7 linked regions of the Homo sapiens genome follow. The protein of the gene in region 3 interacts with the protein of the main gene of each other region in a pairwise test. Each region holds a gene or a part of one and is shown on either strand. Other genes may lie near its edges. The genes, in order: MYO10, RAB11FIP4, ECPAS, ANKRD17, KIF5B, UBE2G2 and MYH10.

Region 1 (4,436 bases), on a different chromosome or scaffold from region 3:
AACAGGAAGAGGAAGAAAAGAAGAAACGGGAGGAAGAAGAAAGGTACAGTACCTTTCTTGCTGGGATGAAACAAATGGATACATTTTGAGTGCTGTGCTCGGTATCTGTCTGTGCAGCCAGAAATCCCAGCAGATGCCCCAGAACCTACAATTTGAAACAGTAACTCTAGGTGGCTAGAATATAAAATTCCTTGGCAGCATTAAAGACCCAGTTCTGTGAATATTTTTATTCATACAGAATAAATCCATGGCCAGAGGAAGGGGCTCTGTCTTTCATGCTTTCTGTCTTTGGCAAAGCTGTTTTAAAAACGTAGATCTCTCTGAAAAGTGGTTCCAGGGTTATTGTTGTTGATTTTCACTTTTCCTTTACTATTTTTAGAGAAAGAGAGAGAGAGCGAAGAGAAGCCGAGCTCCGCGCCCAGCAGGTAATGAGTGCAGTGACAACTTAGCCTCTTGTGTTTCTACTTCCTTCCCACTTCTAATGCTTGGACTCTAGGATTCAAAACTGAATTAAAGTAGAAAGATAACAGGAAGAACAATTTAAGAGGATGTGTTTATGATCCAATTTCTGACCTATTACAATTGGGTAAAGCGTAGTGAATGGCTGAGGTTTTAGTGTGCATCACAAGAGTATAATTTCTCTAAATCGGTATAACCAGCGTGTTAGTTTGCTAGGCCCACCACAGCCAAATACCACAGACTGGTGGATTGAACAGTGGAAACTGATTTTCTCCCAGCTCTGGAGGCCGGAACTGCAAGATCAAGTTATCCTTAAGTTTGATGTCTTCTGAGGCCCCTCCCCTTGGCTTGCAGGTGGCCGTCTGTCCAGTGTGTCCTCACGCAGCCTTTTTTCTCTGTGTGACCTAGTCTCCTGTTCCCAAAAGGACACCAGTCATCTTGGATTGGGGCCCACCCTAGTGAACTCATTTTAACTTAGTCTCCCCTTTAAAAGCTGTATCTCCAAATGCAGTCACATTCTGCAGTATTGGGGTTAGGACTTCAACCTATAGACTTTATGGGGACACAGTCCAACTCATAATGACCATATTTCATCCTGGTTGCAAAGCGGGAGCTATGCTTGGACTTTTGTACTGAAGCCTTCTGAAATCTCCCTTCTGCTTCTGTCCAGGAAGAAGAAACGAGGAAGCAGCAAGAACTCGAAGCCTTGCAGAAGAGCCAGAAGGAAGCTGAACTGACCCGTGAACTGGAGAAACAGAAGGAAAATAAGCAGGTGGAAGAGATCCTCCGTCTGGAGAAAGAAATCGAGGACCTGCAGCGCATGAAGGAGCAGCAGGAGCTGTCGCTGACCGAGGCTTCCCTGCAGAAGCTGCAGGAGCGGCGGGACCAGGAGCTCCGCAGGCTGGAGGAGGAAGCGTGCAGGGCGGCCCAGGAGTTCCTCGAGTCCCTCAATTTCGACGAGATCGACGAGTGTGTCCGGAATATCGAGCGGTCCCTGTCGGTGGGAAGCGAATTTTCCAGCGAGCTGGCTGAGAGCGCATGCGAGGAGAAGCCCAACTTCAACTTCAGCCAGCCCTACCCAGAGGAGGAGGTCGATGAGGGCTTCGAAGCCGACGACGACGCCTTCAAGGACTCCCCCAACCCCAGCGAGCACGGCCACTCAGACCAGCGAACAAGTGGCATCCGGACCAGCGATGACTCTTCAGAGGAGGACCCATACATGAACGACACGGTGGTGCCCACCAGCCCCAGTGCGGACAGCACGGTGCTGCTCGCCCCATCAGTGCAGGACTCCGGGAGCCTACACAACTCCTCCAGCGGCGAGTCCACCTACTGCATGCCCCAGAACGCTGGGGACTTGCCCTCCCCAGACGGCGACTACGACTACGACCAGGATGACTATGAGGACGGTGCCATCACTTCCGGCAGCAGCGTGACCTTCTCCAACTCCTACGGCAGCCAGTGGTCCCCCGACTACCGCTGCTCTGTGGGGACCTACAACAGCTCGGGTGCCTACCGGTTCAGCTCTGAGGGGGCGCAGTCCTCGGTAAGTACCTGCCTGGCGTGTCCCAGTGAAATGGGTGGCCGGTCACACCCACCCCTGTTGCATCCTCAAGTTGAATGAAGATACCCGTAGGATATCTGTGCAAAGATTGCAGAGTCGTGGTCTTAGAGATCATCTTAAACCTTTTGCTTATTCCATAAGCCAATTGCATTCATAAGTAGAACTTTGATGTGCCTGTTTCAGTTTTAGCACAAAGCCTAGAGCTGAGCTGTGCCCAAGACTTCAGAAAACTGGCTATTTATTTATTTATTGTTGTTGTTGTTGTTTTTGAGGTGGAGTCTTCTCTGTCATCCAGGCTGGAGTGCATTGGCAGGATTTTGCCTCACTGCAGTCCCCACCTCTCGGGTCCAAGCTATCCTGCTGCCTCAGCTTCCTGAATAGCTGGGATTACAGATGCCCGCCAGCACACCGGTCTAATTTTTGTATTTTTAGTAGAGATGGGGTTTTACCATGTTGGCCAGGCTGGTCTTGAACTCCTGACCTCAGGTGATCCACCTGCCTCGGACCCCCAAAGTGCTGGGATTACAGGCGTGAGCCACCATGCCCGGCTTAAAACTGGCTTTTTAAATGGAACTTTTGTTTATTTTATTTTATTTCTTCCTTCCCTTTTTTTACAATTTGAATGGAACTTTTAGCTTTGCCGTGCTGCGTTAGGAAATGAAGACACATCCTGAACTGGAACAAGACTTGCCAGGGGTGAACTGGCAAACTTTCCTTGTACTAACTTCACAATCCAAACCACACGATGTTATTTCTTATAGTGGCTGTAAAGGAAGAAGCTGCAGGGCTTAAATGTACTCTTTTCCAGTTTCTGGATTTATCTGTAGTTTACTTTTATTTTGTCGCTTTGGTCGTGCATTGAATGTTCTCTTGACTTTCAAAGATTTGAAAATATATTTAATATAGTAATTCAGAGGGGGTGAACTCTTGCATGGTTTGATTAAAATTATAGCCTTAAAAAGCATTGTTAGTTTTAGGGCAGATAGCCTTTGGATTCAAGTATATCTTGTCTTTCATGTATCAATTCAACTGACCATTTGACCTTAAAAGTTGGTATTTTTAATTCCGAATTATTTGTGTGCTACCGTAAATCAGGCGTATTGCTTGTCAGTTGTTTTTTTTCTTTTTCCTTTTCCCTTTTTTTTTTTTTTTTTTTTTGAGACTGAGGCTTGCTCTGTTGCCCAGGCTGGAGTGCAGTGGCACGATCTCTGCTCAGTGCAGTCACTGCCTCCTGGGTTCGAGTGATTCTGCTGCCTCAGCCTCTTGAGTAGCTGTATTTTTGTATTTTTTCAATGATGATACATGCTGGGTATCTTCGTGGCTTGCTTTGTGGCCTTTTCCCTCACCGTTGGCTTCTCTCTCTCGGTCCAGTTTGAAGATAGTGAAGAGGACTTTGATTCCAGGTTTGATACAGATGATGAGCTTTCATACCGGCGTGACTCTGTGTACAGCTGTGTCACTCTGCCGTATTTCCACAGCTTTCTGTACATGAAAGGTATGACTGCAGCCGCCATGGAGTCTGGGTTAGGGGGAGAGCGAGGCGTTATTTTATCCGGGCTGATGGATGGCGGTGGGAAATAACGGAGGTGTTATTGTATCTGGGCTGATGGATGGGGACTGGGAAAGTCGTTCTACCTACCCTTACCTCAGTGTTGGGCCACTTAGATGAATGAAGGGACACCTTGTCATGTTGGTGTGACATGGGTGCTGTGGTCCTACCAGCATGAACACAGTCGTGACTCCCCTGGTTTGGTGCAGAGTGGCAGGACGAAGCATTTGCAACCACTGCCTCCAGTATCAGTCCTTCTCCCCTGTCTCTCCCTGTCTCGTTTTCCTTTCTTAGCTCTTTCTTCATCCTTCTATTTTCTCTCCCTCTCTCTCCCACTTTCTCTTTCACTGTCTCCCTCTCTGTCTCAGTCTCATTGCTCTCTCTCATATATACAGACATACAAACCAATGTGTGTGTTGCTGCTGCTGCTGGAATTGGTCGAGACCCATTCTCATGATAAACTGCATGTTCTCGGCCGGGCGTGGTGGCTCACGCCTGTAATCCCAGCACTTTGGGAGGCCGAGGCGGGTGGATCATGAGGTCAGGAGATCGAGACCATCCTGGCTAACACAGTGAAACGCCGTCTCTACTAAAAATACAAAAAATTAGCCGGGAGCGGTGGCGGGCTCCTGTAGTGCCAGCTACCTGAGAGGCTGAGGCAGGAGAATGGCGTGAACCCAGGAGGCGGAGCTTGCAGTGAGCCGAGATCGCGCCACTGCACCCCAGCCTGGGCGACAGAGCCAGACGCTGTCTCAAAAAAAAAAAAAAAAAACTGCATGTTCTCTCCTGCCAGGGATATTAGAGAGCCTAAAAGGATGTGCTAGACATGGGGGAAAGTGAAGATCTCACTGAGGCCCACTGCTG
Region 2 (4,436 bases), on a different chromosome or scaffold from region 3:
CAGCCAGCCCCGTGCCTTAGTGTTTGATCTCGAGGATGGAGGGATTGTGGTCCAGGATGGCGAGGATAATCTTGTCCATGTACTGCCTCAGCCGGAAGTTGATCTCCTCCTGCTCCTTCAGGGCTTCCATTAGCTGAAGGAAATGGGAAAGACGGGTCAGTGGCTGGGCCTGGGATAGGGTGCAGGCAGAGTCCAGACTCCCAGGCTTGTCGCAGGCCAGTGCCTGACAATAGAGGGCATCAGGAGATCCTGGGCAAGGTGGGCCCCAGGACAGCCTCAGCATTTGGATGCCAGGACCAGAGTCGAAGTGGCTCAGCCCCTAGTATTACCTATGCAGGTGCCCAGGCCCCACCCCCAGAGATTCCAATGTGATCAGTTTGTAGAGGGGGCCCAGGTGTGGGTAATTTTTTGCAAAAGTAGAAAACACTAGCCAAAGTCATTTAAAATCAAGACTGACAAAGTCCCAGGGCCGCTAAGACTCCAAAGGGGAGCTGTCTCCTGCCTGGAACACCTCTCCCCACCCCCAGCCCCACACTGCTCTTCTCCAGGGCAGTGTTCTTTCGGACATTGCTGACATGCTGCCTCTGCCCAGGGGTTGGGGCCCAGCTCACCTGGGAGCTCCTTGAGGACAGAGGTCAGCTCTTCACCCCGTGTCCCAGGCAGAGGGTGAGGCTCAGTGACAGAGTGTCTTGTAATTCATGTTACAATGCAGCCGGGGCATTTTGGAGGCCTGATCTTTCATAAGCATACTCTGGTGTGGCAGGAAGGGTAGGCTTTGGCTTTGGAGAGAGCTGGGTCCCTCTCCCTCCCTAGCTGGGTGGTCCTGGGTTCCACCTTCCCAGCTTGGAATGTGGAGCTGTTCCTAAAGCCTCAGAGTCATCAGGAGATTAAGTGAAAACACACCGCAGAAGCAGGTGCTGGGGAAATGCTAATGTCCTCCCTCTCTGGACTGGGAAGAGCGGGAGTGATAGCCTAACCCAGAGTCACAGCTTGATCCACTCAGCTGGCTATGTTGGCATTTTTCTGGCCGACCTAAGACTCACACTCCACTCTGAACCAAACCCGCACTCCTTCCAGCACAGGCGGAACTCAGAGCTGACTTAACTTCTCCAGCAGCCCCCTCCCCTGCTCACAGCCTTGCCCTGTCATGTGGGGTAGCTGTAGATGGGACTCTCTGCCAGGCCCTGGTCTGGTTTTCTCACTCTGGGCAGGTGGGGGCCGGGAGAAGGAATCACAGAGGGCGGCCAGGCCCCAAAGCAAGAGCCGGTGGTGTGGTTACCTCATCGCGCGAGGCGGTGTCTATCTCCGCAGCCAGAGACTGGGCTTTAGTCTGGGCAGCAAAGAGGTTTTTTGCTTCGTAGAGGCTGAGGCTCAAAATCTGCCCATTCAAGTCGTCGTTCTGATCCCGCAGCTTATAATTCTCCTACAGAGAGAAGGACGAAGGCGACATCAACCCCAAGAGGCATCCACAGCCCACTGGAACCCACTTCTCCACATCCACCGTCCCCGACCTGCCGCCAGCGCCATTCCCACAGGTGTGTGTCACGGCTGGTTCAAGGGGCCATAGATGTTGCAGCCTTTGCCAAGCGCTGGGGGCAAGGAGGGCTGGGTCCTGGTCCAGGGGACTGGCATCCTGGGAGTGCACAGGGTTTGTGGAGGAGTTACAGCCCTGCTCAGCGCAGCCAAGGCTCCTGGCCATCCCTTCCTCCCTAGGCCCTGCATAGGGACATCACCCACCCAGCAGCCCAGTGAAGGAAGTGATGCTCTGGGCTCTCTGGGCAGGCTGGCCAGCTCATTTCCTTGGCTCCCCCAGCAGCCACGTTCCGAATCCTGCTTGGTTGGAGTTGACCCAGGCGGACCCGCCCAGATCCCATGCACCGGTCTCACACTCCAGCTTTTGCCTAAAGAGCCCTAATGCTCACACCTGGGACCCTGGGCACCCCACCCCTAGACTAGGAGAAGGGTTGGGGTTTTAGGATTTCTGTGAGAGCACAGCCACCAGCACCTTTGTCCCCAGTGGAACAAACTCAGAAGGATAATTTATGCTGCAGGCTCTTCCACCTGCAGGGTCAGGCAGAGCTGACACTTCACCCAGCACCACCTGGCCACTGCCTCCTCCTGATCCACTCCCCCACCCAAAGGTCTCTAGCTAAGGCAGCGCTCCTTGAAATGTAATCTTCTGGCTAGGCACAGTGGCTCATTCCTGTAATCCCAACACTTTCAAAGACTAAGGGTGGGAGGATCCCTTGAGCCCAGGAGTTCAAGCCTGGGCAATATAGGGAGACCCCATCTCTGGAAATAAATACATAAATAAGTAAATTAGCCAGGTGTGGTGGTGCTCTCCTGTAGTCCTAACTGCTCGAGAGGCTGAGGTAGGAGAATTGCTTGAGCCCAGGAATTTGAGGCCATAGTGACTGTGATCACACCACTGCCCTCCACCCTGGGCAACACAGTGAGACCCTGCCTCAAAAAACAAAAACAACATTAGCTGGGCATGGTGGTGTGTGCCTGTAGTCCTAGTTACTAGGGAGACTGAGGCAGAAGGATCACCTGAGCCCAGGAATTCAAGGCTGCAGTGAGCTATGGAGTGCCAAAGCACTCCAGCCTGGGTATCAGAGCAAGACCCTGTCTCTTGGGAAAAAAAAAAAAAAAAAGGAACCTTGGGTGAGGGTCTACTTCTGGGAGAACCCAATGCCTCCAGGCACTATACTGCAGCTGGGTATGGTCTCATCCTCCACCCTGAGCACCAAGGCAGGGTCTATTTCCTTACATAGACGTAAGGGAGAGATCTTTGGATCGATTTTCCTGAGCTGTGAAATGGGGCAGTCAGCCCTGGCAAACAGGTTGCTGAGAAGCAGACAGGCAGTGCTGCTACAGCTCTGGGCTCCCCTACCACAGATCCTGCACAGGAAACCCACGTGGTGGGCCCGGCCACCCTGCCCCACTGGACACAGAGACTGCTAGACCCACCTGCTTGAGCCGCTTGACCTCGTGCTCGAGCTCCACCTCGCGGGCCCTGGCATTGAACTCGCCTAGGCCAGAGGAGGCACTGCGGCCCCTGCCTGGCCGCTCGCAGTCCAGCTTGTACATCTGCAGGTGCTCCAGCTCCTTCCGCAAGTCCTCGATGAGCTGCGAGGGAGAGAAGCAGGTTGGCAGGAGCAGGGATGCTGGAAGGAGCCCTGGTGCCTGCTGGCCTGGGACCTACCTCCTGCGTCGCCTCCCGCTCCTTCTGGAACTCAAGGCGGTTCTGTCGCAGCTTGTCCATCATGCGCTTGTACAGGTCCATCTCATCTTTGAGCCGCAGGCTGGTGTCCTCCAGACGGTCAGACATGCGCTGCCGCTCCTGGAGCAGGGAGACCCGATCAGGGGAGGAGAGTTCCCAGAGAGGGGCTCACTATGTCCAGGGGTGTCCCTGGGGTCTGGTCAGCCATCTTCACGAGGCAGATGCACAGTGAAACCAGCTCCCTTAGACGGAGCCCTGAGTCTTGGCTTACAGAAACGGCCAGAGCCCCGATGATTCTAGAAATACAACTAAAAACCTCAGGCCTCTGAAGTCCTTCAACGATGCTAGATGCAACCTGAATTGAAGGTGTTAGCCCAAATAGAAGCTAACCTCTTTCTAAAACTAATTTTTCTCCATTGTATAAAGTAATAAATACATTCGCTGTAGAAAACTTGGAAAATCAGAAATACAGAAACACAAGTTGTTATTCACTTTTTTTGCATTTCTTAGGGGGTGCGGCATTTGTTTAGAATTTCAGAAGCAATAAACTAAAGGCTCCCGATGGCCAGCCCTGCCCCTCCAAGCCTGGATCTGCTGCTCACCTCATCCAGTTTCTCTGTTTGAGACTTGAGCCGAGTCACTGTTGTTCTAAGCTCTGTATTTTCTTCCTCCAACTGCTGCACCCTGGCGAAAGGAGAAAGACAAATCTCAGAAACCTGGAATGTAGACTATCTGATAAGCGCCTGCCAGTCTGCAGTGATTCTCTGCTTCCTCCCAGAGGAAAGATACCAGAAACCAACTGAGAGAAAGAATATGATTATTATGTCAAAGACAATTTAGCCGTGAGCTTCCTATCAGCCAAAGCAAAATAGTAAGGACTATTTGTAAGCAAAATAGTAAATTATCATTCTTATTTTCTTTCTTTTTTTTTTGAGACAGAGTCCTGCTCTGTTGCCCAGGCTGGAGTGAGGTGGCACAATCTCAGCTCTGCAACCTCTAACTCCTTCAGCAATTCTCGTGCCTCAGCCTCCTGAATAGCTGGGATTAGAGGCATGCACCACCACGCCTAGCTAATTTGTGTATTTTTAGTAGAGACGGGTTTTGCCATGTTGGCCAGGCTGGTCTCAAAAACTCCTGGCCTCATGTGATCCGCCCACCTTGGCCTCCCAAAGTGTTGGGATTACAAGAGTGAGCCACCACACGTGGCCTTTAT
Region 3 (4,436 bases):
GTGATCCACCCACCTCTGCCTCCCAAAGTGCTGGGATTACAGGCGTGAGCCACTGTGTCCGGCCTATTTATTTTTTTTGAGTAATACCATTGAGCATGAAGTTGCCAGAAGGCTGGGTGCGGTGACTCAAGTTTGTAATCCCAGCGCTTTGGGAGGTCGAGGTGGTCAGATCACTTGAGTCCAGGAGTTCGAGACCAGCCTGGGCAACATGGTGAAACCCTGTTACTACAAAAAATATAAAAATTAGCTGGGTGTGTTGGCATGCGCCTGTAGTCCCAGCTACTTGGGAGGCTGAGTGGGGAGGATGGCTTGCACCCAGGAAGTCAAGACTGCAGTGAGCTGAGATCACACCACTGCACTCTAGCCTGGGTGACAAAGCGAGACCTTGTTTCAAAAAAAAAAAAAAAAAAGTTGCCAAAAATAGGCAGGTTAATTTTGGGGTGAGACTTGTTATTGTTAGCATTTGTTATCCTTTCACAAACCTCATGTTTGAGTCAGTGATTATAATAGAAGAATAGTAAAGCTGTTTATTTATTGTGTGTTTACCGTGTGTTCTAATTGTTTTGCATGTATCAACTAATTGAATCCTCAGAACAACCCTGTGAGTTTGGTACTGGTACTGTCTCAGGGGTAGAGCTACCCTCATTAGACAGTTAGGACTTGAACTTAGATTCTCTGATTGCAAAATTTGTATTAATTCTGCCCTACTACTACTGTGTTATTCCTGTCCTGCATGGGAGAATATATAGTTCATAACAAGATCAAAATGGCTTTTTGTGTGTGTGTGTGTGTCTAACTAGTATCCAGAGAGAACCTTCTGTAGTGTATAAAATGTGGCAATCGGGGCCAGGCGCAGTATCCAGAAAGAACCTTCTGTAGTGTATAAGATGTGGCAATCAGGGCTGGAGCGGTGCCTCACACCTGTAATCCCAGCACTCTGGGAGGCCGAGGCTGGGGGATAAGTTGAGAGCAGGAGTTCAAGACCAGCCTGGCCAACATGATGAAACCCCCGTCTCTACTAAAAATACAAAAAAATTAGCCGGGTGTTGGGACGTGCACCTGTAGTCCCAGCTTCTTGGGAGGCTGAGGCAGGAGAATTGCTTGAACCTGGGAACTGGAGGATGCAGTGAGCTGAGAACGCACCACTGCACTCTAGCCTGGGTGACAGAGCTAGACTCCATCTCAAAAAAAAGAAAAAAAAGAAAAAAGGACCAGGCGCGGTGGCTCACGCCTGTAATCCCAGCACTTTGGGAGGCTGAGGCAGGTGGATCACCTGACGTTGGGAGTTCGAGACCAGCCTGACCAACATGGAGAAACCCCATCTCTACTAAAAATACAAAATTAGGCAGACCTGGTGGCGCATGCCTGTAATCCCAGCTACTTGGGAAGCTGAGGTTTAGAGTTCCTGAGGTTTGAGGTCAGGAGTTCAAGACTAGCCTGGCCAACATTGTGAAACCCTGTCTCTACTGAAAATACAAAAATTAGCTGGTTGTGGTGGCACACGCCTGTAGTTCCAGCTACTCAGGAGGCTGAGGCAGGAGAATCACTTGAACCTGGGAGGCAGAGATTGCAGTGAGCCAAGATTGTGCCACTGCACTCCAGCCTGGGTGACAGAGTGAGACTCCCACTTGAACCCGGGAGGCGGAGGTTGTGGTGAGCTGAGATTGCATCATTGCCCTCCAGCCTGGGCAACTAGAGTGAAACTCCATCTCAAAAAAAAAAAAAAAAAAAAAAAATTCTGATGTTACTGAACAGAACATAGTAGATTTTTGGGTATGTTGCCAAAAAAGAAAACCATTAGTTTTGACTGTTAAAGGCAGTTCTGAAATCTAGTTTGTAAATTAGTTTAGGTCAGAGCCTGTAGCTTTCTTTCCTTATGCTTAGAGTGATTATAACTATTGCAAATGAAATGAAATTCAATGCAAGACATGTGGCTAGTTTTTCTGCTAATACTATCTTCTGCCACTTTATGGAAAAGTTGACATTATAGTTAATATTTCAGGAGTGGGTTGAGAGATTTCCAACAGGGAAGGAAGCATTTGAGACTTTTCACCTGGTCAGCTGTTTAGTGGTTTCGTATTCTGGGCTTTATAATTATAAGGCATCCTTAGAATCTGATCTTCGTTGGGATAAAGGCAACTCATGAAGGAGCAACAGCCTATAATCTTGAAGGATGCACTATTCAATTTGACCATTTGACATAGCCATGGGAAACTTCAGTTGCAAAAGTTGGCCAGATAATCAGCATGTCAGGTGTCTTCTGAGAGAGCCTCTGCTAGTGCTGGGAATCCTGGTAGCTCTTTTAGAGGATGAGATTTGGGAAGCTGTGTGTTGAACATGATTCTGTGACCATACTGAAATAGCCCCTAAGAGCTAATTGCTTAAATGACCAGAATACAGGCTTCCAAGCTGATCTTTGTAGAAAGGCCAAGGCAAGCCTGTATCATTTAAATTTTAGTTACTTAACCAAATAGGAAAGTTAAGATGGAAAAATGACCACGGATATTTCTATTTTTTATTAATTTCCATTCTGATTTTTTTACTTTCACTGCATTCTGGGTTTTTTTTTTTTTTGAAACTAGAGTCTCACTCTGTCACTCAGGCTGGAGTACAGAGGCACAATCTTGGCTCATTGCAACCTCTGCCTCCCAGGTTCAAGTGATTCTCCTGTCTCAGCCTCCTGAGTAGCTGGGACTACAAGGCGTGCACCATCACAACTGGCTAATTTTTGTATTTTTAGTACAGATGGGGTTTCACAATGTTGGCCAGGCTGGTCTTGAACTCCTGACCTCAAGTGATCTGCCTGCCTCGGCCTCCCAAAGTGCTGGGATTATTGGCTTGAGCCACTGCACCTGGCCCACCACATTCTGTTTTGAATTATGCTTTCAGTAAACTATAATATGTGATCAAGGCCATTGTCAGTGAGAATAGTTGGCACAGGAGCATTGACCTTGTTCAGAAGATAGATGTTAAAATTGAAGTCACTGCCAGTGTTCTCAGATGGTTTGATCCCTGTTGCTGAGCTCTCGTTTCAGACCTGGCCTTGATGCTTCCCATTTTATATGGCTTGTTTTGCCCATGTATTTTTTCAATTCAATAAGCAGACTTTTAAAATTGAGTAAATAATGTATGGTGCTGTCCTCAGAGGGCTTATAATTCAGTGCAGAGACAGATTTATGTGCAAATGTAAATAACATACACAAAGCACGGTAAGTAAACTGCCTAACACAGTTCTTTGGAAACCTCAAGAAATGAGAATGGTATTTGAGGCTAAAGGAAAAATAGCTTGAGCTGAGACTTGGAGATAGGGAAATATTATGCAAAACAAAAAAAGCTGAGTAAGTCTGTTATGATGGGAATGGGGGTGCTACGGCTGTGTGAAGTACTGGGAAAGGGGATCAGCTGTGTGGTTTGAGACTTGGCCCATGCTGCCTTTATGATTTGAGATCTTGGACAAATTACCTTACCTTTGCAAGTCTCAGTTTCTTCCTCATAAAATTGGAATGACAAGATTCACTCATAGTATTGTTAGGATTAATGTATGTGAAAATGTACTGTGTAAACACTTAAGCTCTTATAAATTATTATTATTTTTGGTGTGGGATGTAATAGCAGATGATGCTGTGGAGATAGGTTGGGACCAGCATGTTGTAGGAATGCCAACAGAACTAGTTTGGACTTTGTTCTGTAGACAGTAGAGAACCATCAGAGCTTTTAAGCAGGAGCGTAACATGAGTAGGTCTGTTTTGTACGGGTAACAGGTGGCATTGGTGTAACACTGATTGCAAGGATCCGGAGATCAAGAGCAGCAAGACTAATTAGGAGGGTATCACAATGGCCAAGTAAAAAGAAACTTAGGGTCTGAGTTGGGACAGTGGAAGTGGATTTGGCAAGGAGTTAATATAATGTAAAATCCCTAAAATAGGGAGAAATTGTTGGCTGACGAGATGAGGGTTGTTGAAGAAGGGAGGAGTTAGAGATGAATCTAAATCTGACCTGAGACTAGAAGGTGGAGGAGTAACAGAGAGTGTAGCCTCTAGACAGATTTAGGAAAGTGAAGGAAAGAGAGAACAGATTCAACAGATAGGTAGTCTGTGTTCAGCAGAAAGATTATTTGTTGAATGAATGGGTTGAATTATTGAGCCCCCATGTTGTTCAGGGAGACTGCTTTGAGTAGTGGCTAAAACCTCTGGAACTGGAATCAGAGACAGTTTTGAATCCTGATTCTGATACTTCTTAATGTGTTCTTGAACAAGGGACCTAACTTGTAGGCCTCGGTTTTCTCATCTGTAAAATGAGATAATAAAACTTACAAGATTTTTTTCTTTTCTTTTCTTTTTTATTGAGACAGGGTCTCTCTCTGTCACCCAGGCTGAAGTACAGTGGTGTGATTTCGGCTCACTGCAGCCACAATTTCCTGGTCTCAATCCATCTTC
Region 4 (4,436 bases), on a different chromosome or scaffold from region 3:
CTTTTCTTCCAGGGAAACTGAATCCCAATTCTCTACTGGCCAGATAGCTGTGTGAATATGTGAATTTATATCTTGCCTCTATTAGTCTTGAAGATGGTAGGCCCCAACAAAGACATATATTTTACTCAGATTTTAATTTCTTGTTACTTCTTAGTGGTTTGGGTACTTTTTGTGTGTATGTGTGTGTGTTTAAAAGGCACAGACTATGAAATGTGAAAAAACCTGACTTAGAGGTCTGTTTCCTCTTCACCCTAATAATTTAGCATTATTGTTCTGTTCTTATGATGAGTTTTAACATCTTTATGACCATATAAAATATCTACACATAGCCTTAGATGTTACTTTAATTGCACACTTAGATATCACAAACCTGCATTCCTCTATTGTCTAATTTAAGCCATGTGCTATTTTTAAGATTCTGAAATTAATTTACAAAGATTTTGCACATAAAATACATACATTTTATATTTGTGAAAAAGAAGGTGGATTTGTTTTTAATTTTTTAACAGTGCATTTTCACCTGTTATGGATATGATTACTTAGTGCATAACTGTTGGCACTAAACCTCCCAACAGTAACTCTGTAATGAGGATGCCATTCATGTGCACTTCTGAGGGGGTTTCTTTTTCACACAGCTGCTTCTAAACAAAAGTCCAGCAGCCATTTGCCAGCAAACAGCCAGGATGTACAGGGTTACATCACCAATCAGTCTCCAGAGAGCATTGTAGAAGAGGCTCAGGGAAAGTTAACAGAACTGGAACAGAGGATAAAAGAAGCCATAGAAAAGAATGCACAGCTGCAGTCCTTGGAACTGGCTCATGCTGACCAACTTACCAAGGAGAAGATCGAGGAGCTCAACAAAACAAGGGAGGAACAAATTCAGAAGAAACAAAAGATTTTGGAGGAACTACAGAAAGTAGAACGAGAGTTACAACTGAAAACTCAGCAGCAGCTAAAAAAGCAGTATCTAGAGGTTAAAGCTCAAAGAATTCAACTTCAGCAACAGCAGCAACAGTCTTGCCAACACCTGGGATTACTAACTCCTGTTGGAGTTGGAGAGCAGCTTTCTGAGGGAGACTATGCACGGTTACAGCAAGTGGATCCTGTTTTACTTAAAGATGAACCCCAGCAGACTGCTGCTCAGATGGGTTTTGCGCCAATCCAGCCTCTGGCGATGCCTCAAGCTTTGCCTCTGGCGGCAGGTCCCTTGCCTCCAGGGTCCATCGCAAATCTTACAGAACTGCAAGGAGTGATAGTTGGACAGCCAGTACTGGGCCAAGCACAGTTGGCAGGGCTGGGGCAAGGAATTCTGACAGAAACACAACAAGGGTTAATGGTAGCCAGCCCTGCTCAGACCCTCAATGACACGCTGGATGACATCATGGCAGGTGGGTTTATATTGTTATGAGCAGGTATCAAATATGATTTGCTTAAGGCGAGTAAGAATGTACCCAAATTTTTTGCCGTTACCCAACTTGAGAACTATTTTTGGACTGACTCATGTCTAGCTTTAGAAGTATTAGTTCAATCTCAGAAGTTCTCAGATGGATACAGGTCAAATTAAAGATTAGCTCATTCAGTACAAATGACTGAAGCTTTCTGGCTTAGCTTGGTAGCTTGAGAATCTAGGTTTTTCAGTAGTGGGGTTGATGTTTGATTTTTGTTTTTGTTTTCATTTTTTTCCTTTAAGTTCAGAATACTGAGATTGAATTTTGGCATTTTGCTTCTGTATTCACACCAATAAACTGGGAAATTGATAGAAGTTGAAGTGCAAAACTAGTAGGACACATCAGGAAGCTTATTTATGAACAGAAATACTTTATATCCTAATGGATCAGACTTCAAACCTGATGGATATTTAAAAAAAAAAACACTTTTACAAAATTAATAAAGTTCAAAACCAAATAGGGTTTAATTATACTGTATGTAAGTGATTTTGTCCCCTGTGAATGTTAATGTGTAGTCTCTTTCTAACTGTATCATGAGAAGGTGTGGCCCCCCTGAAAGTATCATAAATGATATATTTTTAGATGTGTAGCCAGATAAATTTTATTCGATTATAACTAGTTTCATTGACAAGAAGATACACTTTAGAAGACTGTTTTTATGCTTCTAGTTTTTGGTACTTATTTTTTGTGTTTTGTAACAAAGTAATGGGATGAGGTTTTATAGGGTTGTGAACCATAAGAATGCTGTACTGAGAAGGATAATTTGCTTCATTAAAAAAAGAAAATTTGAAAAGGAAGGAAAACAGAAAAATGAAAGGAATAAACAGTGGAATTTTGGTGACTTCCATCTGATCTCTTCCCCTTTTTTATTCATTCATCTGTACTTAGAGGATGATTGACTTTTTCTAATTTAAAAACTGTTTCAGTAGCATTAAATATGATGAGCTTATTTTTTTTTAAGTTTCATCTTTTAAATGGATAATAGGAAACTAAACTGTATAGTGTTTAGATATTTAGGTAACGTTCAGACACTAAGAATCCAGCTGAGATAGATTTTATACTTAAAAATATCTGTAAAGTTTGCTAGTCCGCCTTTAATAGCACCTCAGTAGTTATAACATGTGGAATGAAAATTTCTGCTAGTCTTAAGGGTTAAATAACCACATTGGAAAAATGCTAGTAATAATTACTAGTAAGAATTGTACGACTCTTATTGATGAGTGCAAAATTTTTCTATAGATTTGAAAGTCACTACTAATCATGACTAGCTGATTATAATAATTGAGAGTAAACTTTTAAAATTATTAAATATCCTGTGAAAGTTGGAGCACAGTAACCATTAACCCTAAATTTGATACTATGTCCATATGAATTCAGATCATAATAGTGCTCTATCATGTGAAACTACTAAAGGATGTATAGAGTTAAATATTACGTATCCACTTTAATGAAGAATAGGTATTACACAGTAATGGTTGTTTAAAAAAATTTTTTTTATATAATATCAGAGTTTACCTGATGTGCTTGGGCATGCATAGTTGTCAACAATGATTTGCTAGTTGTACAGTTTTGTATGCTGATCAGAATTATCAGAAGTTTGTAAAGTATCTTTTCTTTTGATTCATACATGAAACAAAAACAATTCTGTGTATTCTCAGTGTTCTGTATAAAAAAATTTTAAGTGCATATAACTTTTTAGGAAATATGACAGATGCTTGTCATAATACAAAAATATTTTACTTTTTTATTATGCTCATTTCTATGGGGAGAGAAACATAGCCAGAAGGAGGAAGAGTAGGATTGAAAACATTTGGCTACTTACCTGCAACTCATCCCTGACAACAGGCATGTGCACATTCACACACATGCACATATACTCATGCACTGACTTTTGCAGCCTCAATCTTAAATTTCTGTGGTAGGATGTATCCTTTCAGTTGCTTAATGATGATTTCCACTTCTTTCTTAGGGGTTTAAAGTATATTACAGCCTCATTAGTCTCATCGTCTTCTTTTCCTCCCTCTAGCACAGTCCCTGCTCTTTATTTCTTAGGCTTCATTTATTAGACTTCTACCATAAAATTTGCTGACCAAAATCGTCTGTCTTTCCTGTTCTTCACACTTGCCAAACCAGAATCAGCTCCCTGTTTAACCTGTCTCAACACCTTGCCTTTGCTATCATTTCAAGTTCCCTTTTTTCTATGCTGACATTAAAACTTTTCTGATGTGTGGTTCTCCCTCTCTAAATCTAACACTAAAATGAAGCCCCACATGTAAAGATTTTTACCAGAGTTCCTTCAGGTACCTACATATTTTACATTTGTTTCTTTTAGTTGTAGAGAATGGATGTGTGATTGACAGTCACCTAATTTTAGTAAACCAATTTTATAGGTACCCCGAAGGAAATGATGAGATAATTGATTTTTCCTGTCTCCTTTTAGATGAGGTGATAAGAACAACCAATTTGACTTAAAAAAAAAAAAAAAAAAAACTCTGTAATTTTGGTAGGTTCTTTAAAAGAAAATATTCCAGTTGAAATGTAAATTATAATTTAGTCATTTAACAATAAAACTTAGATTTTTTTTAACCTGTTTAGTATTATGAAATAAAATTTAGTGATTCGGACAGACTGGTGTTCATCCTGTTTAAGCTACTTTTTGTATTTAGCAGTTTTATTGTGAAAATCCAATCAAAGGAGATATGGAATCAATTTAAAGAGCTCTAGATTTTATATGATTTTGAAATGTATATCAACAATATGTACATTTAAATTATCTTGATCTTTTCGTAACATACAAAACTATCAATATGGAGTAACAATATCCAGATCGCTAGATTATCAATTTAATATATTAGTATATGCCCTTTTCTATTGGTCTGGATCCCTAAGGATTCAAACAGTGTTTTGTTTTGTTTTGTTTTGTTTTCTCCTTCGTTTTTCCTTTGGCTTTTAAGTGGACTTAAAAATGTATAATTATAGAATGTGTGT
Region 5 (4,436 bases), on a different chromosome or scaffold from region 3:
GATTAATGAACTACAAATTTACATTTAAATTGGTTATTTTCAAGAGTACCTACAAACTACAGATAAAATTTGATGTCTCTCTAATCAAACTCTTAAGAGTAGTACTCAAGAAATGGTGGTATGCTTGGCAAATAAGATCATGAAGCTTTTCATGTTCTTTTTTCTTTTTTACTGGTTATTGATGACATATGAACATTTTAGAAAATGTAAAGAAAATTATAAACTTGTAATTTTGTTTCATTCTTTTGAAATCTTATGTATAGGTTAGTAAAACTGGAGCTGAAGGTGCTGTGCTGGATGAAGCTAAAAACATCAACAAGTCACTTTCTGCTCTTGGAAATGTTATTTCTGCTTTGGCTGAGGGTAGTGTGAGTATACATGTCTTCTATCTCCCTGTTACCTTATGGGGCATTATTTAAATATAGGTGTATATGTGTGCCTGGGTGTGTATGAGAGAGAGAGAGAGAAAGAGAGATTGAGATTCAATGTGTTTGAATCAGTATGTGTAAGTTAGTTGTCTTTTGGGAGTTTATTTTATAATAACATTTTATTATACTGGTCTTGTTTTCTTTCTTTGTTTTTGTATGCAGACATATGTTCCATATCGAGATAGTAAAATGACAAGAATCCTTCAAGATTCATTAGGTGGCAACTGTAGAACCACTATTGTAATTTGCTGCTCTCCATCATCATACAATGAGTCTGAAACAAAATCTACACTCTTATTTGGCCAAAGGTTTGTTGTTAAGAAAGTACAAAACCTAAATTTAGATAGACCTTTTGTTTATAAAATGTAGGAAAATGTGAGCTGTTATTCCAACCTGTACATACTGTTTTGTGCTAGACACACTCAGTTTGAATTGATGACAGATAATACAAGGTGGGTCTGATTTTTAGACTGCTTGGTTTAAGTTTTAGTACACATTAAAGTCAGATGTAATTTTAGTCAAATTTGTGTGACAAGCTGTAATTTGGTATTAAAGAAAATAAGCATTTGAATCAAATAATGAGGTCAAAGCCTGGCAAACATAATCCTCTGTTAAGCCTGTAGACATGCATGACAGGTTAATATAATCTGTATGAGATGATTAGGAAAATCAGTAATGATGATTCCGTCTTTGACTTTCAACAGTAATTTCTTAATTCAGCCTTGCAAACAAATTGGAAAAATATAGGCCTTTGTCTTTTATTTTTAGTGGTTTGTTGATTTTTTTTTTTTTAAAGCTATTCACAGATTTTGGAGCAGACTCAAATTTAGTTGAGTTGTAAATAACGTCATATGTTGCGGCTTTTAGTATTTAGTCTAAGAGATTACTGGACAAGCATAAGTTTCTTAGCCATATATACATATATTCCATATAGATAAAATTAAAAATAATTTCAGTCTCATCCTTTTTTTCCTCCAATTACATCTCTTAGGGCCAAAACAATTAAGAACACAGTTTGTGTCAATGTGGAGTTAACTGCAGAACAGTGGAAAAAGAAGTATGAAAAAGAAAAAGAAAAAAATAAGATCCTGCGGAACACTATTCAGTGGCTTGAAAATGAGCTCAACAGATGGCGTAATGGTAATAACTTAAGAATTTGTCATCTTCAGTTTGTTAAATACAGATTTAGAGCATAGAAACGTAGAAATAGTTCAGCAAAATCAGTAAGTGACTAGATCAAGAAATTTAATAGACATCGAAATAATTTTTAAAAAAATTAATAGAAATCCTGGAGCTGAAAAATAAAATGAGCAAAATGCAAGAGACCATCAGTAGTAGAATTAATTAAGCAGAAGAATCTGAACTTGAAGACAGATTATTTGAAAATAACACAGAGAAGAAAAAGTTTGAAAGAACGAGGCTGGGTGCACTGGCTCATGCCTGTAATCCTAGCACTTTGGGAGGCCAAGGTGGGCAGATCACTTGAGGTCAGGAGTTAGAGACCAGCCTGGCCAACATGTTGAAACCCCATCTCTACTGAAAACACCAAAATTAGCCTGGCATGGTGCTGAGCGCCTGTAATCCCAGCTAATCAGGAGTCTTGAGGCAGTAGAATTGCTTGAACCCTGGAGGCAGAGGTTGCAGTGAGCCTAGATTGCACCACTGCACTCCAGCCAGGGTGACAGATTGAGACTCTGTCTCAAAAAAAAAAAAAAAAATTTTTAAAGGAATGAAATTGAAATTAGCTTTAGACGTCGTTTTTTTATTAACCACTTTATTTTCTTATTTTAGGGGAGACGGTGCCTATTGATGAACAGTTTGACAAAGAGAAAGCCAACTTGGAAGCTTTCACAGTGGATAAAGATATTACTCTTACCAATGATAAACCAGCAACCGCAATTGGAGTTATAGGAAATTTTACTGATGCTGAAAGAAGAAAGTGTGAAGAAGAAATTGCTAAATTATACAAACAGCTTGATGACAAGGTAGGTATTGCTTGATTTAGGTCTGCTTTATATTAGGATACTATTGACATGGGTGTTTTTATTTTCTAACTTTTCTCATTTCAGTGCTGTGGGCACTTAGGATCTTTATGCATCTTCCTTGATTTCTGTTAATCTTGTAAAAATTATTGTATTAACAAAATAAAAAGTCATAATTTCAATTTCTGTGTGGAAACTGTATGAGCATGTATCTTTTCTTCCCCCTCTTTTTAAGCTAAAAGAACTTTATAAGGCAGCAGTCCCCAACCTTTTTGGCACCAGGGACTGGTTTCAGGGAAGACAGTTTTTCCGTGGATCAGGTCGGGGAGATGGTTTTGGGATGAAACTTCCACCTTGGATTATCAGGCATTAGATTCTCATAAGGATCCTCTAACCTAGATCTCTTGCATGCACAGCTGATAATAGAGTTCGCGCTCTTAATGATATTCTAATGCTGCTGATCTGGCAGAAGGCGGAGCTCAAGTGGTAATGCTTGCTGCTCACCTCCTGCTGTGCTTCTTGGTTCCTAACAGGCTTCCAGTACTGCTTTGTGGCCTGGGGGCTTGGGGACCCCTGTTCTAATGAAAATTTGGCATTGGGTCATTGGGAGCCTCAATGATACCAATTGTTAGAATCAGGGCTCTGAAGACTCCAATAAAAGATGATGTGAGAGATTAAGGGAAACACAATAGAGTGGAAATAATATCTTCCTGCTTTGCATATAGAAGTAATGTCAATAGTATGAATAATAGCAAACTAAGAACGTAATAGAATGGAAGGCAAGAACAAGAGTAGTAAAGAGATTAGAAGAAAATATTTTCTTAAGTTGATATTTTTAATATATTTTAAGCAGAGATGGCAGGTTCGAAGTACATGACCATTATAAGTATTGATAATTGAAAGAAATTCCTTTTGTTTTGCCATTTTCTTAAAAGAGATTAAAATAAGCAATGTTGAATTTAGAGAAATGGTTTTGAAATATTTCTGGGGAGTAGTAATCTTATAACCTGTATTGGGAAACAACTAGAACCAGGTTGTTAGCTACTGGTTAACCGGATACTTCACAATTCTAGGATGAAGAAATTAACCAGCAAAGTCAACTGGTAGAGAAACTGAAGACGCAAATGTTGGATCAGGAGGAGGTGAGTTGAATACCTTTTACATTGCTTCCAGAAAAGCTTTATAGTTTTGTTTTCTGAATCCCATTGACTTTGTCTTTAATAGTTGTATAATTTTGGGTATGACTGTCTTTGTGGGAATAAGAATGTCACATGGATAAAGTGAATTTTTACTTATTCATCGTATCTACCCAGATACAATCTGTTGTTCATTTCCGCCATCTTTTTTTTCACCCTGGTTCTTGACATTTCTCTTCTTGTCACTTACTTTGGATCCTCATTTTATCTTCTCACCCAGCAGAGCAGGGGGATAATTGAAAAGCAGTCCTTTAAATTTTTTTGTGGGGGTGGTGGGCAGGGTGAAGACAAAGACTGCTTCGGTAAGAAAGAGATACTCTCCATCAGTGAACTTAATCCTGGTCAGATCATCTTTCAACTATAGCATTTCATATTTCAACTATAGCATTATTCCTCAAAGGGGCACTATTGATATTTTGCATTGGATAATTTATGTTATTCTGTCCTTTGTATTATAGGACATTAAACATTCCTGGTCCCTACTCCTAAATGCCATTAGCATTCTACCCTATTATTAACACTCCCACAGATTTCCGGATATCCCTACAGGAGAGCCACTAATGTGGATGATTGTGGTTTTCTCCTAACTAGTCTCTTGGCATCCCTGCAGTTCAGATTTTATGTGCTGATACCAGGTTTTGTTTTTGTTTTTGAGGCGAAGTCTTGCTCTTGTTCCCCAGGCTGGAGTGCAGCGGCGTGATCTTGGCTCACTGCAACCTCCACCTCCCAGGTTCAAGCGACTCTTCTGCCTCAGCCTCCCGAGTAGCTGGGATTACAGGCGCCCGCCACCACGCCTGGCTAATTTTTTGGTATTTTTAGTAGAGACGGGA
Region 6 (4,436 bases), on a different chromosome or scaffold from region 3:
CCTGTCTCCATAACAGAAAAGCACAAGGTGAAGCAGCAAGGTCTCCAGAAGATCTAGCTAAGATCAAGATGAAAGTGGCTCCTAAATTAAGCAATAGATTTACAAGGTACGTAAAATAGCCTTATACGGTATTGGGAGGAGATGATGCCATATACAACGTAAACAGCTAGAGAGAAGTCAATGACTGGCTTCAAAGGACAGGGCGACTCTTGTTAGGGGCTAATGTCGGTCACTTTAAGTTGACTGAGTTGAAGCCAGTTCTCATTTATCATTCAGAAAATCTTAGGGCCCTTAAAAATTATGCTAAATCTACTCTGAGCTCTAGAGATGGAAAAACAACCTGGATGACAGCACATCTGTGTACAGCATGGTTTACTGAATATAAGCCCACTGTTGAGACCTACTGCTCAGAAAAAAAGATTATCTTCAAAATACTATTCCTGACAGTGCACCTGGTCACTCAAGAGCTCTGATGGAGAGGTATAAGGAGATAAATGTTTTTGTGCCTGCTAACACAACACCAATTCTGCAGCCCATGGATCCGGGAGCACTTTTGACTTATTTAAGAAATACATTTCATAAGGCCATAGCTGCCATGAAAAGTGATTTCTTTGATGGATCTGGGCAAAGAAAATCAAAAGTCTTCTGGAAAGGATTTATCATTCTAGATGGCATTAAGAACATCTGTGATTCATGGGAGGTCACCATATCAACAACAGGCGTTTGAAAAAGTTGATTTCAATGCTCATGGATGACTTTAAGGGGAGGAAGCAACTGCAGGTGTGGTAGAAATGGCAAGGGAACTGGAATTAGAGGTGGAGCCTGAAGATGTCACTCAGTTGCTACAATCTCATGATCAAACTTGAACAGATGGGGAGTTGAGTCTTACAGATGAGCAAAGAAGTGATTCTTGAGATGGAATCTACTCCTGGTGAAAATGCTGTGAACATTGTTGAAATGACAAAAGATTGAGACTATTCCATAAATTTAGTTGATAAAGCAGCCGCAGGGTTTGAGGGTATTGACTCCAGTTTTGACTGAAGTTCCACTGTGGGTAAAGTGCTGTCAAACAACATCACAGACTACAGAGCAATCTTTTGTGAAAGTAAGAGTCAGTCCCTGTGGCAAACTTAATTGTTGTCTTATTTTCAGAAACTACCACAGCCACTCCTGCCTTCAGCAACTACCACCCTGATCAGTCAGCAGTCATCAATATCCGGGCAAGACTGCACCGGCAAAAAGATTATGACCTGCTGAAGGCTCATATGATTGTTAGCATTTTTTAGCAATAAAAATTAAGCATATTTTGGCAAATAATAATTATTTATTTATTTATTTTTTGAGACAGGGTCTTGCTCTGTCACCCAGGTTGGAGTGCAGTGGCACAACCACAGCTCATTGCAAGCCTTGACCTGGGCTCAAGCTATCCTTTCACTTAATCCACCTGAGTAGCTGAGACTACAGGCATGTGCCCCTACACCTGGCTGATTTTTCTGTCTTCATCTTGACCTCCCTCTATGTTGTCAGGGTTTGGCGAAAGTGACTCCATTTTGATTCTGACAATGTTCATACTCGAACAGAGGGTTGGATGTGGGGGACTATTACTTCTGTGTCCTCATGGGAAACCTGGCTGGTGGGTCAGATGTGTGAACACCTACCATTTCTTGGTATCCTGGTTTGTGTTTGTGTCTCTGTTTTAGTTTTATTTTAGCCCTATTTCTAGGGTTAGGCTAGACTGTGAGCAGGTATTTTCTCTTTTTTTTTTTTTTTTTTTTTTTTTTTGAGACGGAGTTTTGCTCTGTCGCCCAGGCTGGAGTGCAGTGGCGCAATCTTGACTCACTGCAGGCTCCGCCTCCCGGGTTCATGCCATTCTCCTGCCTCAGCCTCCCGTGTAGCTGGGACTACAGGCGCGCGCCACCATGCCCGGCTAATTTTTGTATTGTTAGTAGAGACGGGGTTTCACCGTGTTAGCCAGGATGGTCTCGATCTCCTGACCTCGTGATCCGCCAGCCTCGGCCTCCCAAAGTGCTGGGATTACAGGCGTGAGCCACCACGCCCGGCCTTCTCATTTTTATTGAGAAGAAAATCATTAAACCCCTGCATAGGAAATTAAGTTCAGGCTGCTGCTTCAGGCCAGTCTTTGCATTGTTGAACTTGCATTTTCTAAGGATATTTGCATTAGCAAAGATATGTTCTCCCTTTTATTGTCCTGACAGAAGCTTCATCTGTTATTTCAATTATATTGTCAATTAGTTTGCAGTAATAAGACCTAAATAATGGTTGATTTCCGAAGGTTTGTCACGGAAGTGTGTTGTGTGTTTTTACATGTTAACATGAAATTTTGGACTATGTGTAGAAGGTAGAACTCTAAACATACCTCACTAAGATTCCCATGCCCTTGTTATTCAAGCACTTTCTAGTACTTCGGTGGAGGGACTTTGGAGATGCAAGTCAGGTTAGTAATCAGCAGACCTAAAGAGTGGGAGATTATTCTGGATTACCGTGAAGGATCCAATAATAACATAAGGCTCAAAAGCAGTCAGTGAAGGCAGGATGGGGGTGGTCAGAGAGATTCAACATATGACAAGATCTCTACCTTCTGTGGCTGGCTGTGAAGATGGAAGAAGGAGCCATGACCTAAGGAAGGCGGGCAGCCTCAAGAAGCTGAGAATGATCCCAGACCAACAGACCCGTGGAAGTGAATTCTGTCAGCAACCTCAATGAACTTGGAGTGGCAGCCCTGGTGAGACTCTGAGCAGAGAACTAGCTGGCCCATGCTGTGTCCAGACTTCTGACGCTTGGAAACTCTGAGATCATCAATGAGTATTGTTTTAAATCACTAAATTTGTGGTAATTTGTTACAGCAGTGACAGAAGATGAATACAGTGTGTTATTGAGGGGACTTTGTTTTTCCTGTATCTTAATAATGTGATAAAATTTAGTGGGTTTTTTTTGTGTATCATTTACTGGTTTTTTTTGTGTGTGTATCTTAACATCTAGTTTGTCCTCATAACGTATTTTAAGGTAGCACATTCCAGTGTAAAGGTGGACTTGACAGAATCAATCTCTACATAGAAGGGGTTTAGATAAATTTGGTTAGATGTTCATGCACACTTTATTGTATTTGGGAGTAGTCATATAACTGCAGAAATTCAGAGGTGGTGGGACCTTGGCTATGATTCTGTTCAAGCCCCCTAATTTTACAGATTTTATGGAATTGAGCAACAGACAAGATGATTTTGCCTAGGTTCATAAACAGGAAAAAAGGAGAGCCAGGAAAGAACTCAATTGTTGTAAACTGCTGTCTTGTCTTGATGTTCTGTCTTCATTCATCATCCAGCCTTTCCTAGGAGTGTCAGAGATAGACCCAGGTAGAAGTGGGCTGCCCATGGGGGGCTTAGCACAACAGAAATTTATTCTTTTACTGTTCTGGAGGCCAGACATCTAAAATAAAGGTGTTGATGGGGTCATTCTTCCTCTTGAGGGCTCGAGGGGAGAACCCTTACTTGCCTCTTCCAGCTAATGGTGATTGTTGGTCATCCTTGGCGTTTATTGTCATTCTCTTGCTTGAGGTAGTGTAATTCTAATCTCTGCCTCCATCTTCGCATGGCCATCTTCCCCCTGTGTGCATGTCCTAAATGTACATGTCTTTCTGTGGATATATGCTTTTATTTCTCCTGTGTAAATAACCAGGGTTATAATGGGAAGTGTGTGTTTAATTTTTAAAGAAACGGCCAGTTTTCCTCTAGTTCACATTTCCCTAGCAGTGTATTAAGTGTTCCCGTTGCCCCACCTCCTTGCTGACACTTCGCGTGGCCAGTTGTTTTTTGTTTTCTTTTTTCTTTCTTTCTTTCTTTTTTTTTTTGAGACAGGTTCTCACTCTGTCACTCGGGCTAGAGTGCAGTGGTGTAGTCATGGCTCATGGCAGCCTCTGCCTCCTAGGCTCAAGCAATCCTGCCACCTCAGCCTCCCAAGAAGCTGGGATTACAGTTGCATGCCACCTCGCTTAGCTAATTTTTGTATTTTTAGTAGAGATAGGGTTTCGCCATGTTGCCCAGGCTTGTCTCGAACTCGTGGGCCCAAGCAATCTGCCCGTCTTGGCCTTCCAAAGTGTTGGAATTACAACTGCGAGCCACTGCGCCCTTCCAGTTTTAAAAATTTTAGCCATTCTATTGGGTGTATAGCAGTCTTACTGAGGTTTTGTTTTATTTATTTATTTTTTTTTATTTTTTATTTTTGAGGTGCTCTCTCTGTCATCCAGGCTGGAGTGCAGTGGCATGATCTCAGCTCACTGCAACATCTGCCTCCTGGCTTCAAGTAATTCTCCTGCCTCAGCTTCCCAAGTAGCTGGGGCTATAGGCGCGTGCCACCACACCTGGCTAATTTTTGTATTTTTAGTAGAAACGGGATTTCACTATGTTGGCTAGGCTGGTCTC
Region 7 (4,436 bases), on a different chromosome or scaffold from region 3:
TACTTTTTGAGAAAAACAAGCCTCTGAATTCTGTACACTCTTGGATAAGATACTGGATGTGGGGGTGGGAGCCCTGCTGAAGCACCATACCTGTGACTCACCTTTCCTCTCCTATGGTAGTGGCACAGGAGGAAGAGGGCACTTCGGCCCATTTCACACGTTTCTACTGCTGCCAAGAAGCCTAGTCATAGACCCCTTACCCCCAGAACCAGTCTAACCGGAGAATATTATGGAACAAGAAATCGGCATTCTCTGTTTGATTCTGTGCTGCCCTAGTATTTCTCTCATCCTAGTTGGCCCGCACTAGAGAGGCTGCCCTTGGCCTCATCACTGAATCCTCCAAAAGCATCTTCAATGCGTGTCTGCCTGAAAATGCAGCCTGAAATGTCCTGGACCCCTGAAAATGTCCTAACCCAGCAGTGAGCTTCATTGGCTGGTGACCAGAGCCCTCCTAAATCACTCCCTTGACAGGTGGGCCAGCTCCTGCCTTTGGGTGGTCTTTCCCTTCCTAGTGCGTGTGCATCCTGTGAGGCACTGGCAGGAACAAGAGTTGGAGCCAGGACTGGCCTGAGAATTATTCTGTCGTCTGACCTGGGAGACAGCGCCCTCAGCAAAAAGGGCCTGGCGCCATCATTTGAAGTTGGTGTGTAGCACCCACCCTCCAGTCAGATCACAGATGGGAAATCGAGAACAGAAGGTGAGAAAACAGATTCCACGTTCACATGATTATTCTTGTTTATTGAGGTCTCTTTATTCTCCACGGGTGCTTTTTTCTTCAAGTAAACAGAGCAGGCGCAAATATCTATAATGAATAAATTTATTGTCTTACAAAAATCATTGTCTAGAAATATGGGAATACAAGAAAAGATATTTGCGGTCAGGTGTCTGGTGGTCAACAGCCAGTACAGTTCATAAAGGGGGAAAATCCAAGATTCCAAACCCACAGGACAAATTCTTCCTAATAGATGTTAAAGCTTTTAACCCAAAAGGTTTGTGTTTTCAAGCACATTGCAGAGGATCAAGGATTTAGAATTAACACTGATTCATTGTCACTGAATGTCTGTAATACCACTTTGACTAGAGAGGTACATGATATGAAGCACAGTCAAAACTGAATACATTAAATTGTTATAGAGGCGAATGATATATTCAACATTGTCTTAGTACTGTAGTGTCTAAGGCACTTTCCGTAATGTCAGTTTGCTTAACTACCAACCAAAAACAGGATGCTAAGTGTTCACTGTAACACTGTCCAAAGGGAAGGGAGAAGGAAAAATGAAGGAGTCACACCCACTGGCATGTCAACATTCAGGAAGATGGCATCTGTTCTGGAGGCTCCATAAACCTCATTGACAAACTTGGAACAAGCCTCGGACACAAAACCAATATTCCCATTTTGGGCTCAAAGCAGCGGCTGAATTTGCAAGGTCAGCATGAGGGCCCGGCTGGCGATGGGGAGGGGCCTTCCACCAGCTCGGCTTAGGGGTCCACGGCTGCTTGCTCCTGACGTGAGGAGGGCGCCGGCAGAGCCAGGCGGTTCGGGAGACCATCTGGAAGTCTACATGATCCATGGCTGCCACCTGGGGCCTCAGCTGCAGTGTGGCCACTATCCCTTCTATGCACAGACCAGCCCTCGCCAAGGCCAGTTCACATGAGTAGATGCGGGACACCATCGACTCGAGGGGCAGGGCCCCCCTTGGGGGATGGACATGGTAACCCCAAATGGGTGTTGCTTCCGATCCAGCCCACCCCTCCTACTCTTTCCAAAGCCCCTTTCACAGTTTGCTCACTGAAATAGCATTGATCATTATTTGAAGGAAATGAGAGAGACAAGTGCAGTTTAGAGTCCACAGTGGTCTAGGAGACTTGATGTGGCTGAGGAGTCGGGGGCCACGTGAACACAGAACTAGGTTACCTGTCTGTATGACAGAGAGCATGCAGAGCGACTGAGTGACGACCACGGCGCTGCCCCAATAACCCAGCGACCCGCAACCAAGGGCCTGGAGTTTGTTTTAAAAAGGGTCTTACCATGTTTTATAAAATGGTCTCTTGATGACTATATGGAAAATAGATGCAATGATGAAACAATCTGTTTAATATATGTGTCCTGTGTGTGTCTATATATAAAAAGGGGAGCAATTGTACCTAAGTCTGAAGCAGGATACAGTATGCATAGGCTGGAGAGCCTTAAGACACAGTTGATCTTTCAGGAAGGAATCCCGTAGCTTGCCAATTTCCGAAATCTGCAGGAGGCCCCGGGTGCATTCCTAACTGTCCCACTGTATTGCCTCCTCTGGCTTCCTGCAACTTTACTCTGACTGGGGTGGCTGCGTCTCGTTGACATCACTGGTCTTACTTTCTGTGTCATCGTCGGAGAGCTCCAGGGAAGCTCCTTCAAGGTGCAGCTGGCGCCGGCCAGATCGGCTGGAAGAGAAGCTGATGGGGCCACCCCGCCTGGAGAACACAGGAAGCAGATGTGTGTGGGTAAACAGACAGGAGCACATGGCTGTCAATATGTTCAACCACTCAATGCCACGGAACCTTCCCCTTGCACCCCCTCCTCGGACACACGACCTTGTGGGGGTGGCGGTACGATGGGGAAGGACTGCGTGCTTTTCTGCCTCTCCCACAACCCTGCCTGCAGAGTACGCGAAGCAGGGTCCTTGGAGAACTGGGGAGGACTTGATTCAGCCTAGGACTGTGTGATGGAAATGGTAAGGAAGACGGATTAAGGCCAAGCTCTACCTGCTAACCAGGGAATCAGCCAGATAGCAAAGTGGGCCACATAGGGACTCTGTTGCATATTCTTTGTTTCGGCGTTTTTATAACCATTTAAAAATGTAGAAACCATGCTTAGTTTGATGGCTGTATAAAAGCAGGGTATGCACCAAATCTGCCCATTGGCCAGATGTGCTGAAACCTCCGCCGACCTGGTCTTCTGGGGCAGAGACTTCAGCTGTAGCTCTCTCACGCTCTGCCCTCTCACTGGTACAGAGCAGATCCATTGTGGTGAGGAGGACGGTGCTGAGGAGGGCTGATGGCACCAGGTCCCAGGAGGAGCTCCTGCCCTGCTTTTTAAGAGAGGCTGGGAGCTCACTTCACTAATGGATATCTGGACAGGGATGGATGCCTGACCCAGCTCCAGCCTGGTGTGGTGGATTAGTGTGGTCCTCTAGTGACTGGCAATGAATAGGGCCGCCTCCTCTTTTATTCTCCCCAAGGACGACTATAAAGGTCAGAAATCTTAAATGAAGTGGTTCGGGAGAAAGAATGGGTCACTGGGTATGGATCTAAGTAAACTTCCTCTGACCAGCTGCACCCCGAGCCTAAGCTAACCCACAAAGCAGCTGCCTGTCAGCTCGGGGCCGCATGCCTGCTCACCTCAGCCGGTTCTTCAGGGTGCTGACCTCGCGGCTCAGGCCCTCGTTGGCCTCGGTGGCATCATCCAGTTCCCGCTGGAGTTTACGCCGAGATGCGTTGGCACGCGTCGCTTCTTCTTCTGCTTCCTCCAGCTGGCGTTTAAGCTGCTTCATCCGAGCGTTGGCCTTCTCCATCTTGGGGAGGGTACATGAACCAAAACAAACCAAACTGGTGAATCCAGTGTCGGCCTCTCTGTACCCCGAGCGTGGCAGTGTGGGGCTCTGCCTGTTACCCTTGTGAGCACGCGTGTACACGGATGTACACGCGTGCCTGGGGGCTGGTCGGAGGCTCTGTAACCGGCCTGCCGCTCTCAGCAAAGCTAGCATCTACAAAGCACACTAGGCCAAAAGAAATGAAAAAGTACTCAAGACTCTGTTTTTACCAGTGAGTTTTCTGCAGAAAAATGACAGCGTTTACTGTCTTCACACACGTGACCTAGGGGACTGAAAGGGAATTGCTATTCTTGCAAAACGTGGAAGAACCAGCAATGTGGGACAATCCCCAGCCCAGAAGATGGTACAATGCATCTTTACACCTCCTTTCAAGGATGGGCATCTCAGATACTAGACTTGGATTCAAGCAGAAAGCCACCCTGGGATGACATGCCACAGAACTAAGAGCCTCCCTTTTGGACCCTTCATTCCTGAGCCACACAGGCACTGGTCAGTGCTTCGTGGGTCCAGCGCACACCACCCTCAACTGTGCTCCGTGTTGCTAGGCCCCAAGGGTGGGGGTGGGAAGGGAAGGCCAGGTTGCCTGACTGAATGAATGAAGTTGGGGAGGGTTCGGGCCAAAGGCAGTGAAATCCTCAGATCCATCCACCTTTCTGGCCAGTGTCTGCAGTGTGAAGTCTCACCAGGCAGAGGGCAGGGAGCGGGAGGGAGGGTATAGCTGCCCACGCTGCAATCAGGGCAGGCCTGACCCACAGTTCAAAGTCCTGCGGAACATTCCCTGTGTACTTAGAAAAGGGGGCCTGGATGCAGACGCTGAAGCTCACTCGGGTGCAGCGTGCAGTA

The links.
Region 1: the proteins of ECPAS (region 3) and MYO10 interact in a two-hybrid assay, tested with the Homo sapiens proteins (one large-scale study listed by BioGRID).
Region 2: the proteins of ECPAS (region 3) and RAB11FIP4 interact in a two-hybrid assay, tested with the Homo sapiens proteins (one large-scale study listed by BioGRID).
Region 4: the proteins of ECPAS (region 3) and ANKRD17 interact in a two-hybrid assay, tested with the Homo sapiens proteins (one large-scale study listed by BioGRID).
Region 5: the proteins of ECPAS (region 3) and KIF5B interact in a two-hybrid assay, tested with the Homo sapiens proteins (one large-scale study listed by BioGRID).
Region 6: the proteins of ECPAS (region 3) and UBE2G2 interact in a two-hybrid assay, tested with the Homo sapiens proteins (one large-scale study listed by BioGRID).
Region 7: the proteins of ECPAS (region 3) and MYH10 interact in a two-hybrid assay, tested with the Homo sapiens proteins (one large-scale study listed by BioGRID).

What each region holds. Positions count from the first base shown.
Region 1 is NC_000005.10:16,698,532-16,702,967, reverse strand, and holds part of MYO10 (unconventional myosin-X), read left to right. Parts: coding exon 1-43; intron 44-379; coding exon 380-425; intron 426-1,129; coding exon 1,130-2,005; intron 2,006-3,394; coding exon 3,395-3,518; intron 3,519-4,436. UniProt on the Homo sapiens protein: Myosins are actin-based motor molecules with ATPase activity. Unconventional myosins serve in intracellular movements. MYO10 binds to actin filaments and actin bundles and functions as a plus end-directed motor.
Region 2 is NC_000017.11:31,527,313-31,531,748, reverse strand, and holds part of RAB11FIP4 (rab11 family-interacting protein 4), read right to left. Parts: intron 3,908-4,436; coding exon 3,826-3,907; intron 3,344-3,825; coding exon 3,206-3,343; intron 3,130-3,205; coding exon 2,971-3,129; intron 1,424-2,970; coding exon 1,280-1,423; intron 134-1,279; coding exon 17-133; 3' UTR 1-16. UniProt on the Homo sapiens protein: Acts as a regulator of endocytic traffic by participating in membrane delivery. Required for the abscission step in cytokinesis, possibly by acting as an 'address tag' delivering recycling endosome membranes to the cleavage furrow during late cytokinesis.
Region 3 is NC_000009.12:111,473,875-111,478,310, reverse strand, and holds part of ECPAS (proteasome adapter and scaffold protein ECM29), read left to right. Parts: intron 1-4,436. UniProt on the Homo sapiens protein: Adapter/scaffolding protein that binds to the 26S proteasome, motor proteins and other compartment specific proteins. May couple the proteasome to different compartments including endosome, endoplasmic reticulum and centrosome.
Region 4 is NC_000004.12:73,136,483-73,140,918, reverse strand, and holds part of ANKRD17 (ankyrin repeat domain-containing protein 17), read left to right. Parts: intron 1-635; coding exon 636-1,388; intron 1,389-4,436.
Region 5 is NC_000010.11:32,031,822-32,036,257, reverse strand, and holds part of KIF5B (kinesin-1 heavy chain), read left to right. Parts: intron 1-263; coding exon 264-368; intron 369-590; coding exon 591-736; intron 737-1,419; coding exon 1,420-1,568; intron 1,569-2,219; coding exon 2,220-2,413; intron 2,414-3,483; coding exon 3,484-3,552; intron 3,553-4,436. UniProt on the Homo sapiens protein: Microtubule-dependent motor required for normal distribution of mitochondria and lysosomes. Can induce formation of neurite-like membrane protrusions in non-neuronal cells in a ZFYVE27-dependent manner.
Region 6 is NC_000021.9:44,795,061-44,799,496, reverse strand, and holds part of UBE2G2 (ubiquitin-conjugating enzyme E2 G2), read left to right. Parts: intron 1-4,436. UniProt on the Homo sapiens protein: Accepts ubiquitin from the E1 complex and catalyzes its covalent attachment to other proteins. In vitro catalyzes 'Lys-48'-linked polyubiquitination. Involved in endoplasmic reticulum-associated degradation (ERAD).
Region 7 is NC_000017.11:8,473,495-8,477,930, forward strand, and holds the end of MYH10 (myosin-10), read right to left. Parts: intron 3,555-4,436; coding exon 3,382-3,554; intron 2,455-3,381; coding exon 2,310-2,454; 3' UTR 730-2,309; downstream 1-729. UniProt on the Homo sapiens protein: Cellular myosin that appears to play a role in cytokinesis, cell shape, and specialized functions such as secretion and capping. Involved with LARP6 in the stabilization of type I collagen mRNAs for CO1A1 and CO1A2.